Linked DNA regions of Homo sapiens. The gene in region 2 interacts genetically with the main gene of each other region. Each region holds a gene or a part of one and is shown on either strand. Other genes may lie near its edges.

Evidence for each region. A genetic interaction does not mean that the proteins touch.
Region 1: of RAD52 (region 2) and SEM1, changing one enhances a phenotype caused by changing the other (phenotypic enhancement), as found in Homo sapiens cells (one study listed by BioGRID).

What each region holds. Positions count from the first base shown.
Region 1 is NC_000007.14:96,691,648-96,696,947, forward strand, and holds part of SEM1 (26S proteasome complex subunit SEM1), read right to left. Parts: intron 3,245-5,300; coding exon 3,151-3,244; intron 1-3,150. UniProt on the Homo sapiens protein: Component of the 26S proteasome, a multiprotein complex involved in the ATP-dependent degradation of ubiquitinated proteins.
Region 2 is NC_000012.12:938,813-944,112, forward strand, and holds part of RAD52 (DNA repair protein RAD52 homolog), read right to left. Parts: intron 1-5,300. UniProt on the Homo sapiens protein: Involved in double-stranded break repair. Plays a central role in genetic recombination and DNA repair by promoting the annealing of complementary single-stranded DNA and by stimulation of the RAD51 recombinase.

The sequences.
Region 1 (5,300 bases), on a different chromosome or scaffold from region 2:
AGGAAGAATAACTTTGTGTGAGTCTTTTAATCAAGACAAATTTTTTAAAGCAAGGATTGTGCGAGGCTGTTTTATTCAATATGGTAGTCATATGTGGCTATTTTAATTGAATAAAACAAAAAATTCAGTCCCTTAGCTGTGCTAGCCACATTTCATGTGCTTAGTAGCCAAATGTAACTGATTGCTTCTATACAGCAGCTTCTCAAACATTTCCATCACTACAGCAAGTTCTATTTGACACCACTGGCAATGTGGCAACAATCTTAGTGAAGAAAGAACTCATGACTCAAATGGGGAAATAAAAAGAAAAATCTTATTCACTAATGGAGGCATCAAGATTTATATACCTCAGGCAAAAAACAACAACAGTGAAAAAACAACAAAAATAGATTTATATACCTATAGAAATCCACAAACCTAAAGGCAGAAACACAAGAGTACATAATGGCACTGTGGGGGTGTATTATAAAAACAGTAAGCCACAAATATATAATGTTCTATTTCTAAAGCAATAAAAAGGCAACATGTAATGATGTGAAATCTAATTATCAATACATTTACTACTGAAAGTTTCTTGGTAAAAATTATAGTATTCAACAATGTATCAATCAGTTTTAAGAGAAAAGTGCTAATGAAAGACATAAAAGAAACAAAACTTCAAAGAAATTTGACTATTTTGAATGTCAAAGGAAGAAAACTTGTTTAGCCTCAATTTCAAAATGTCAAAAACATATCAGGAAGAAAACTCTGACACGTGATTAAAAACACAGAGTAGAGATCAACAGCATTTGGAAGACCTGAAAATAAATAGTCTAATAGCATAATGATGCCAAGGCGGAACAAAAGGGAATGTATATTTTTCAAAAGCTAGTAGGGTGTTCTCTAATGTGGCTCATTTTTTGAAGGACATAAAACAAAGACAGATATAAAAAGAAAGGGCATGAGCTTGTACACATAGAATTAATCTGATCCTCGAAATAAACTGAAATCTGTAAAAAGAACAGAAGGGGCTTCTAAGAGCCATATACTGATCATGAAGAATGAGAAAGAGCAGGTACAATGCTTGGAACAGATGATGTAACATTAACAGATTTTAGAGAAAAAGCAGGATTATTGTTCAATAGCTATCATTTTTATCTTGTCCATAAAACTATAAAAGGAAAAACAACATAATTAAGACAAAATTGAAAACTAAGACAGGTAAGATAACTGCATTAAGGCAGTTTAAAATCTCAAGGCTCTGGATAATTACATCTCAGGGTACTAGAAGAACCAAAAGATGTAGTCAAAAATCAGTCAGCAATATTTGAGACACGGAAATGAAAAACTGTAGAAGTATCAGTATAACAGTGAAAGGTAAATTATACTATTTCTAAAAATGAGAAAAAAAGTAGATAGGTAAAATTATTATCAGTCTCCAGCAAAATTCTAAGTCTTTATAGAGCCAATAAAAAAAAATGCAGTGTAGGAGCTGGTGCTACTGCATTACTATTAGAAATCAAAGTTTAAAAATTTATTATAAACTATTTCACTTTCTGTTTGAACAAGCTTACTAGACTAGTAAATTAGAAGACTGGAATACATATATCTTCTATATCTTTACTTGAGCAAAGTATATGACAGTCTATTTATTCTTGTAGCCAAGACAAATAAATACAGCCTGAATCAAAATAAAATTAGGAGGGAAAAAAGTCTCTTCAACAAATGGTGCTGGAAAGACTAGACATCTATATGCAGAAGAATGAGCTGAAGCCCTATTTCATAACATATACAAAAATTAACCCAAAGCAAAGACTGACATGTAAGAGCAAAAACTATAAAGCTCTTAGAAGAAAACAAAGATAAATCTTCATTACATTGAATTTGCCAATGAATTCTTAAATATGACACCAAAAGCACAAATAACAAAAGAAAAAATAGATTAAAATACGGCTATAATTTAAAACAAAAAAGAAAAATAAGTTTTGGCAAGGATGTGGAGAGACTGAAACCTTCACACCCTGCTAGTACGAACGCTAGTGAGAACATAAATTGTTCAACTGCTGTAGAAAACAGCTTGGCAGCTCCTCAAAAAGTTAAATATAGAATTAACGTATGACCCAACAATTCCACTTGTGTGTGTGTGTGTGTGTGTGTGTGTGTGTATATATATATATATAAAATTTCTTTTCAAAAGAATTGAAAACAGGTACTCAAATATATGTACACGTACGTTCATAGCAGCACTATCCACAATAGCTAAAAGGTGGAAACAGTCTGAATGTCCATCAACTGATGAATGTATAAAACGTGGCATATCCATATAGTATTATTATAAATTGGAATATACAATATGGAACATGTATATGAATATTATTCAGCCATAAAAAGGAATGAAGTACTGATGCATGGTACAACATGAATGAACCTTGAAAACATTATGCTAAGTGAAAAAAGGTACGCACGCAAGGTCACAATATTGTATGATTTCATTTATATGAAGCTTCCAAAACAGGCAAATACTTAGAGATAGAAAGCAGATCAGCAGCGGCCAGGGATTAGGGCAAGAAAGAACGTGGAATGACTGCTTAACAAGTACTGTGTTTCCTTTTGGGATGCTGAAAATACTGGAACTAAATAGAGATGATGGTTGCACAATATTGAGGATGTACTAGAAGCCACTGAACTGTACACTTTCAAATGCTTAATTTTATGTTACATGAATTTTACCTCAATAAATAAATGAAATCAGGTAGATTTATACATGAATATGACACAGTACATTCTCACAACCCCAATCTCCATTCCAGTTTGAGAATCACCAATCTATTAGGTCCCAGCACTCTATGATTCTAATTTCTGCTGAGTTATTTGATATTGGTAGAAAATTAACATTGACAGAATTAAATTCCTAAGGATAAGAAATAGCAAATATGCTTCTATTTTACTACCTTTGTAAAAAGACCAGAAAGAATAAAAGTTGTATGCAATTACACAAAGTGTTCATGTTTAGAATCACAGGAGATGAAGACAATATGTCTTACTTTACACAGTTCAAAAACCTATTTCAAAGATTAAGTAGCTTTTAAGAGGTTAATCATCTATGTAAATTACATATTCCATGCTTATAATTAATACTGAACTACAATAAAAATCTGGCTTAAAACTTACCGTAACTGATTAGAGAAGTCATCCTCTACATTGTCATCATCCCAATTATCCTCCCAGACATGTGCATCTTCATCTTCATCTAAGCCAGCCCAGTCTAAAAATAGAAACAGATGCTGTCTAAATATTTCTCATACATTATTTCCACAATTACAAAAACTTTGAAAAGCTTGCTACTGAACACTCACAATTCAAAAACAGCTAAAACCATATCTATGAAAAATGGTATCTTCCTTAAATCTGAGCTTATGCTGTCTAGTTCTCTCAATTCTTGAGTTTGCAGATAACCTAAAACAGAAGTTAATACAAAAAATTCTACTTGCCAAGAAACTTACAATTTCAGGAGGATATTTACTTTACTGATTTTTCTTTGAACTCATTTTTAGAAGGTCGACTTCACAATCTTTCAAAACACAACACCAACAACCCTAAAGCAAGTTGAATGGCAGGAAGATACCAGTGTGAAATTCAAAACTGCAAAACGTAAGGATAACTTATATACAAATATTTAAAAGTAGACCAAACTGTAAGCCACCACTAGTATCTGCCTAATACAACTGATACAAAATTTATATTTTTAAAGGAAGAATAAACATAAATATGCATAAAGAAGAATATTGTAGTTTTTAGTTTTCTAGATTTTCTTCCTCCCTTTGGTAGTGGTAGAGGGGAGGTTTAGATTGAGATTTCAGCTTTTGTTTAGAATGGTGAGAAAGTACGTACGTATTACCACTATTCTCTAACCTCAAATCTCAAGCTTTAAATATGCTATGTGGGTTGAGCCTGGAAATAGAAATTATCTATTTGATAGTTATTTTAAGGAGTCTTTATAAAGATGTCTAATGGAGTTTTATGTTACAAAAAAATAATTTAAATAAAGACTAGATACTATGTTCTTGAGTAAAGGGGGTGACATAACTCAAAATCACAACAGAACTGTTTCAAGGTTCTAAGACAACAAGCAGATTCTACTCAGCTTGAACCACTTCCAAATAACCAGCTTCCTAAACTGTTAAGTAGGTCGCTTCCATCTGCATTGGTCCCTAAAAAGGAAATAATCATGTGTCAAAAGATTCAAGCCAGAAATATAAAATAATATTTTACACTTTTCTGCTAACCTTGTAAGTCTTTGAAAAATACTGTAGAGCCTTATCTTTTAAAGCAACTATCTTTTAAGAAACAAAATTTTTCATCTAATTATGATTTGATTCAAAATGTTATTTCAATAGTTATTAAGTGATGTCTTCAAGTTGACTTTACTTCTTTTAACTTAGAGAGGGGAAAAATATTTAAGAATGGTACAATTTTTTTAGTTTATAAAGTTAAACTCTGATGATCATTTACAACAAAGATAAAGCATCTCTCCCTCGTCTAATAACCATCTCACCCTATTTTAATGGCTGGGAAAGGAAAGGAAAAAGTAGAGATAAAGTCCCAGGAAAAAGGAACTGGCTCATGAAGAGGGGGAAAAAGAATACTGTGAGCAACATTTTAGGTAGAACATATAAAAAAGATTCATAACAATACCTCTATAGTTCTTTCGTATTACTATACAGTACTTCATAGTTATGACACTACTGAGTAAACAAAGACGAAAGAGCTGGCCAAATTCTTCGTTAATTATCTGATAAATCTAGATAAACTTTGTAGCCTTAATACCATTATCTTAAGCAGTAAGAAGCACTAATGTCTACGTAATAGCATACCACCCTTCCAATTATCATAGATGAGGAATCTGAGAAATAACCTTTCTATTACAACTTATTAAGCAGTTAAAATTAATATGAGCACTGTTAAGAAAAATAGTGCTAACACTGACAAACCAGAATCTATTTTGGATGGATATTTTAAACAGTGTATTAACCTGGATTATGTACTTAACTATATTACATAAAAAGCTTATGTGATAGGGTATAATGCCCCAAAATAGTATGTCCAACACTTACAAATTCTCTATACTATACATACATGTTACAATATATGTAAGTTACAATACATACAAACTCTACTCAATGTATAACATGAAAAAGCTGTAACTATTGTAATCTCTGGGTTTAGCTGACATCTTCTTGGATCTCTGAATTGTGTTTTAATTTTCAACTCTAACACTACACTGACAACCAAGCAATTTTAATCACTCAGTTTTAAAGGGT
Region 2 (5,300 bases):
TCTGATGATGGGATGAATATGAGACTGCAGCCACAACCTCCTGGGCTCAGGTGATCCTTCTGCCTCAGCCTCCCGAGTAGCTTAGACTACAGGTGTGCACCACCACAGCTGGTTAGTGTGATAATTATATCGTGATTCTGTAGGACAATGGCCTATCACTAGATGTATGATTTTGTATGATGCAATATTGGAGTAAAGTGTCATGTTTTCTGCAACTTACTCTCAATTCATTCAACTAATTGTGTGTGTGTGTGTGTGTGTGTGTGTGTGTGTAGAGAGAGAGAAAAAGGCAAGTAGATAAAGCAAAAGTACAAATTTATGAACCTAGGTGAAGGATATGCAGACATTAATTGTAAATTTTTTTTTTGAGACAGTCTCGCTGTGCCACCCAGTGCAGTGAGGCGATCATGGCTCACCGTACCCTCAAACTCCTTGGCTCGTGATCTTCCCACCTCAGCCTCCTAAGTAGCTGGGACTACAGTTGTATAACGCCACACACGGCATATTTTTTATTTTTTGTAGAGACACGGGTCTCACTATGTTGTCCAGGCTGGTCTCAAACTCCTGGGCTCAAGCAATCTTCCTGCCCAGCCTCCCAAAGCACTGGGATTACAGACGTGAGCCACTGCACCCAGCCCACTGTAAAATTTGTCCAAAGGCTTCAAATCTTTCAGGATGAAGTGTCAGGAAAGACTACCTGCATAGCCAAGATTATGGCAGCTATATAAATCCAAATATCCAAACACATGTCCAAAAACTACACAGACCAACCAACCGGAGAAACAAAGAAAATCACCAACGTCTCATATCTTCAACATACTTAGAAGACTGAAAATACTACAAGCTTCTAATTACCCATAAGTAGAAAAACGTCAATTTCTTGTAGAGATGTTTCTCAATCTCTCATCTCAGCTCTTTAAGGACAGCAAAGAGGGATCCAGATAGGAAGAGAGATGCAAAGAAGAGAGAAGAGGGCTGGGCGCACCGGGCGCGGTGGCTCATGCCTGTAATCCCAGCACTCTGGGAAGCTGAGGCAGGCGGATCACGAGGTCAGGAGTTTGAGACCAGCCTGGCCAAGATGGTGAAACCCCGTCTCTACTGAAAATACAAAAATTAGGTGGGCGTGGTTGTGTGCGCCTGTAATCCCAGCTATTCGGGAGGCTGAGGCAGGAGAATCACTTGAACCTGGGAGGCAGAGGTTGCAGTGAGCAGAGATCACACCACTGCACTCCAGCCTGGGTGACAGAATGAGACTCTGTCTCAAAAAAAAAAAGAAGAGAGAAGAGGACAATGGAGAGCCTAAGATGGAACTAAAATATCACCCTGAAAAAGAAAACTCACGGTAAGTATGAAAACACCAACAAAGAATTCCGTTAAATCGGGAGGGAGGAAGGGAAGGTCGGGTAGAGACACTTTTAAACACATGCAGAACTTGATGAGGTAGTCTTGAAAACGCAAGCCTTCTGGGAAGAAGGAGAAAAAGAATGAAAGGGTACCCTCTGTTGGCCGGGCGCGGTGGCTCACGCCTGTAATCCTAGCACTTTGGGAGGCCAAGGCGGGCGGATCACGAGGTCAAGAGATGGAGAACAGCCTTGCCAACATGATGAAACCCAGTCTCTACTAAAAATACAAAAATTAGTTGGGTGTGGTGGCGCGTGCCTGTAGTCCCAGCTACTCAGGAAGCTGAGGCAGGAGAATTGCTTGAACCCGGGAGGCAGAGGTAGCAGTGAGCAGAGGTTGCAGTGAGCCAAGATTGCGCCACTGCACTCCAGCCTGGAGACAGAGCAAGACTCCGTCTAAAACAAAACAAAACAAAACAAAACCAAAGAGAAAGGGTACCCTCTGAAAACTGTGCTGTGAAAGACACAAAGAAAATGTAAGAGCCAAAGGACATAGAACCACCTCCCCGACAAAAAAGCCTTCTAGTAGAATTAGAAGCCATACTTGACTACACCTAGAAAAGAATAGGAACTACTCTTGAACTAGGAATCTCAAAAATCATCCTGAATGACTGTCACTCCTGCTCACGAAATGCAAACTTCGAGAAAAAAAAAAGATTGAAAAGAATGAAAGAACCTCAGGATCCTGTGGGCTAATATCAAAATGTCTAACTCACATACAATTGAAGTGAAATTGAACTCACATACAGAAGAAGTGAAAGAGAATGGAACAGAAGAAATATTTTTAAAACTAATAGCTCCAAATTTCCCAAATTGGCCGACAGACATAAATTTACAGATTTAAGAAGCTCTGCAAATCTCAAGAATAAATCTCCGGATAAATACAAATAAAATGACACCTAGATACACCACAGACAAACTGCTAAAAAACAAAAATAAAGAGAAAATCTTGAAAGCAGGTAGAGAATGATAACACATTACATACAGAGTAATGAATGATGCAAATGATGGCTCCATTTTACAATAAAGGTAAGAAACATATCTAGAAATCAATTTAACAAAATATGTATAAGACTTCTGAACTGAAAACCATAAAACAGAACTAAAAGAATTTTTTTTTTTTGAGACAGAGTTTCACTCTTGTTGCCCAGGCTGGAGTGCAATGGCACCATCTCGGCTCACTGCAACCTCTGCCTCCCAGGTTCAAGTGATTCTCCTGCCTCAGCCTCCAGAGTAGCTGGGATTACAGGCATGCGCCACCATGCCTGGCAAATTTTGTATTTTTCGTAGAGACAGGGTTTCTCCATGTTGGTCAGGCTGGTCTCAAACTCCTGACCTCAGGTGATCCACCCGGCTCAGCCTCCCAAATTGCTGGGATTACAGGTGTGAGCCGCCACACCTGGCCCAAAATTTTTATTTTTATTATTATTATTTTTTGAGACAGAGTTTTGCTCTTGTTGCCCAGGCTGGAGTGCAATGGCACTATCTCAGCTCACTGCAACCTCCACCTCCTGAGCAAGTTCAAGCAGTTCTCCTGCCTCAGCCTCCCAAGTAGCTGAGACTACAGGCACCTGCCACCACACCTGGCTAATTTTTGTATTTTTAGTAGAGACGGGGTTTCACCATGTTGGCCAGGCTGGTCTCGAACTCCTGACCTCAGCTGATCTGCCCGCTGCAGACTCCCAAAGTGCTGGGATTACAGGCATAAGCCACTGCACCCGGCCTAAAAAGAAATTTTAAAAGGCTTAAATAAGAAGGAAAATGCACCAAGTTCATATATTTGAAGACTCAATACTGTTTAGGTGTCATTTCTTTCCAAATTGATCCATAGATTCAATGCAATCCCAATCACAACTTTACCAGACTTTTCTGTAAAACTGGTAAAGATAATTCTGATATTTATATGGAAATGCAGAGGATTTAGAATATTCACATCAAGCTTGAAAACAACAAAATTGGAAGACCTACAACTACATGACTTCAAGACTTACTAAAAAGCTACAGTAATTAAAAGTGTGGTACTAACACAAGGATTGAACAATGGAACAGAAAAGGGAGTGCAGACATCAATTACCATTTGTACAGTCATCTTAATTTCCAAAACGCAATACAATAGCATTTTCAACAAATGGTGCTGGAATGACTGGATATCTATATGGAAAAGAAATTAATATTTAATTATATCTCACACCATTCACCTAAACTAGAAATGGGTGATAGGCTTAAACATAAAACTAAAACTATAAAATTTATAGGCCGGGCACGGTGGCTCACGCCTATAATCCCAGCATGTTGGGAGACCGAGGCGGGTGGATCACAAGGTCAAGAGTTCAAGACCAACCTGGCCAACCTGGTGAAACCCTGTCTCTAATAAAAATACAAAAATTAGTTGGGCATGGTGGCGCATGTCTGTAATCCCAGCTACTCGGGAGGCTGGGGCAGGAGAATCGCTTGAACCTGGGAGGCAGAGGTTGCAGTGAGCGGAGATCGCCATCACCGCACTCCAGCCTGGACGACAGAGCAAGACTCTGTCTCAAAAAAAAAAAAAACTTACAGAAGAAAACATGAAAGATTATCTTCACAGCCTGAAGGTAGCCAAGATTTCCTAGGACTCAGAAAGCAGTAACTATAAAAGAAAATATAAGAGAAAACTGATTACATCAAAATGTAAAACTTCTGTTCATCAGACAACTCTAAGAAAATGAATAGGCAACCAGACAGAGGACAGGTAACCAGGATATAAAGGTTATATAAATAACTGCTACAACTCAATAATAAAAAGACACACAACCCAATGTAAAATGGGCAAAAGATTTGAGCAGGCACTTCACAAAGGAAGATGCACATTGTCATGGGCACAGGAAAAAGTGCTAAACACCATTAGTGACTGAGGACTAAAATTAAGACCATGACACACCACACCCATCAGAATAACTCAAAAGACTGACAACACCAAATGCTGGCAAGGATGTAAAGCAACTGGAACTCTCATACACTGTTGGCAGGAAACAGGCTGATAAAACCACTCAGCTGTTAATGCACACTACTCTTCATGAAAACCAAAGGCCGACTCCAAGGACGGAGCCACACGTCCAGGGAGTAGAGCAGCAGAGGCCCAATCCCAGGCCTGGAGCCCTACTGGTTTTTTGAGACGAAGTCTTGTTCAGTCGCCCAGGCTGGAGTGCAGTGGCACAATCTCGGCTCACTGCAACCTCCATCTTCCTGACTGAAGCAATTCTCCAGCCTCAGCCTCCCGAGTAACTGGGACTACAGGCACGTGCCATCACGCCCAGCTAATTCTAATTCTTGTATTTTTAGTAGAGATGGGGTTTCACTATATTGCTCAGGCTGGTCTCGAACTCCTGAGCTCAAGTGATCCCCCCGCCTCGGCCTCCCAAAGTGCCAGGATTACAGACGTGAGCCACCGCGCCTGGCCTATTAGTTCTTTATTTATCTTGAATATCAGTCTTTTGTCAAATAGGTCCCTGTGTTTCCCCATTCATTTTCTTAGAGTAGTCTGTGATTACATTTTGATGTAATCAATCATATTTATCTTTGTGTGTGTGGTTTTTTTTTTGGGTTTTTTTTGCTTTTTTAAGTGACTCTGGCATCCTGAGCCCTAAGAAACCTTTGCACACACTCAGGTCATGAAGATATTCTTCTCATCTTCTTCCAGAAGCCTCACGGTTTTCTAATTTTGAAAATAGGTCTGGGCGGGGCCCGCTGGGTGCAGTTGCTCACACCTGTAATCCCAGCACTTTGGGAGGCTGAGGCAGGCGGATTGCATGAGGTGAGGAGTTCAAGACCAGCCTGGCCAACATCATGAAACTCCATCTCTACAAAAAATACAAAAATTAGCTGGGCCTGGTGGAATGTTCCCGTAGTCCTAGCTACTCAGGG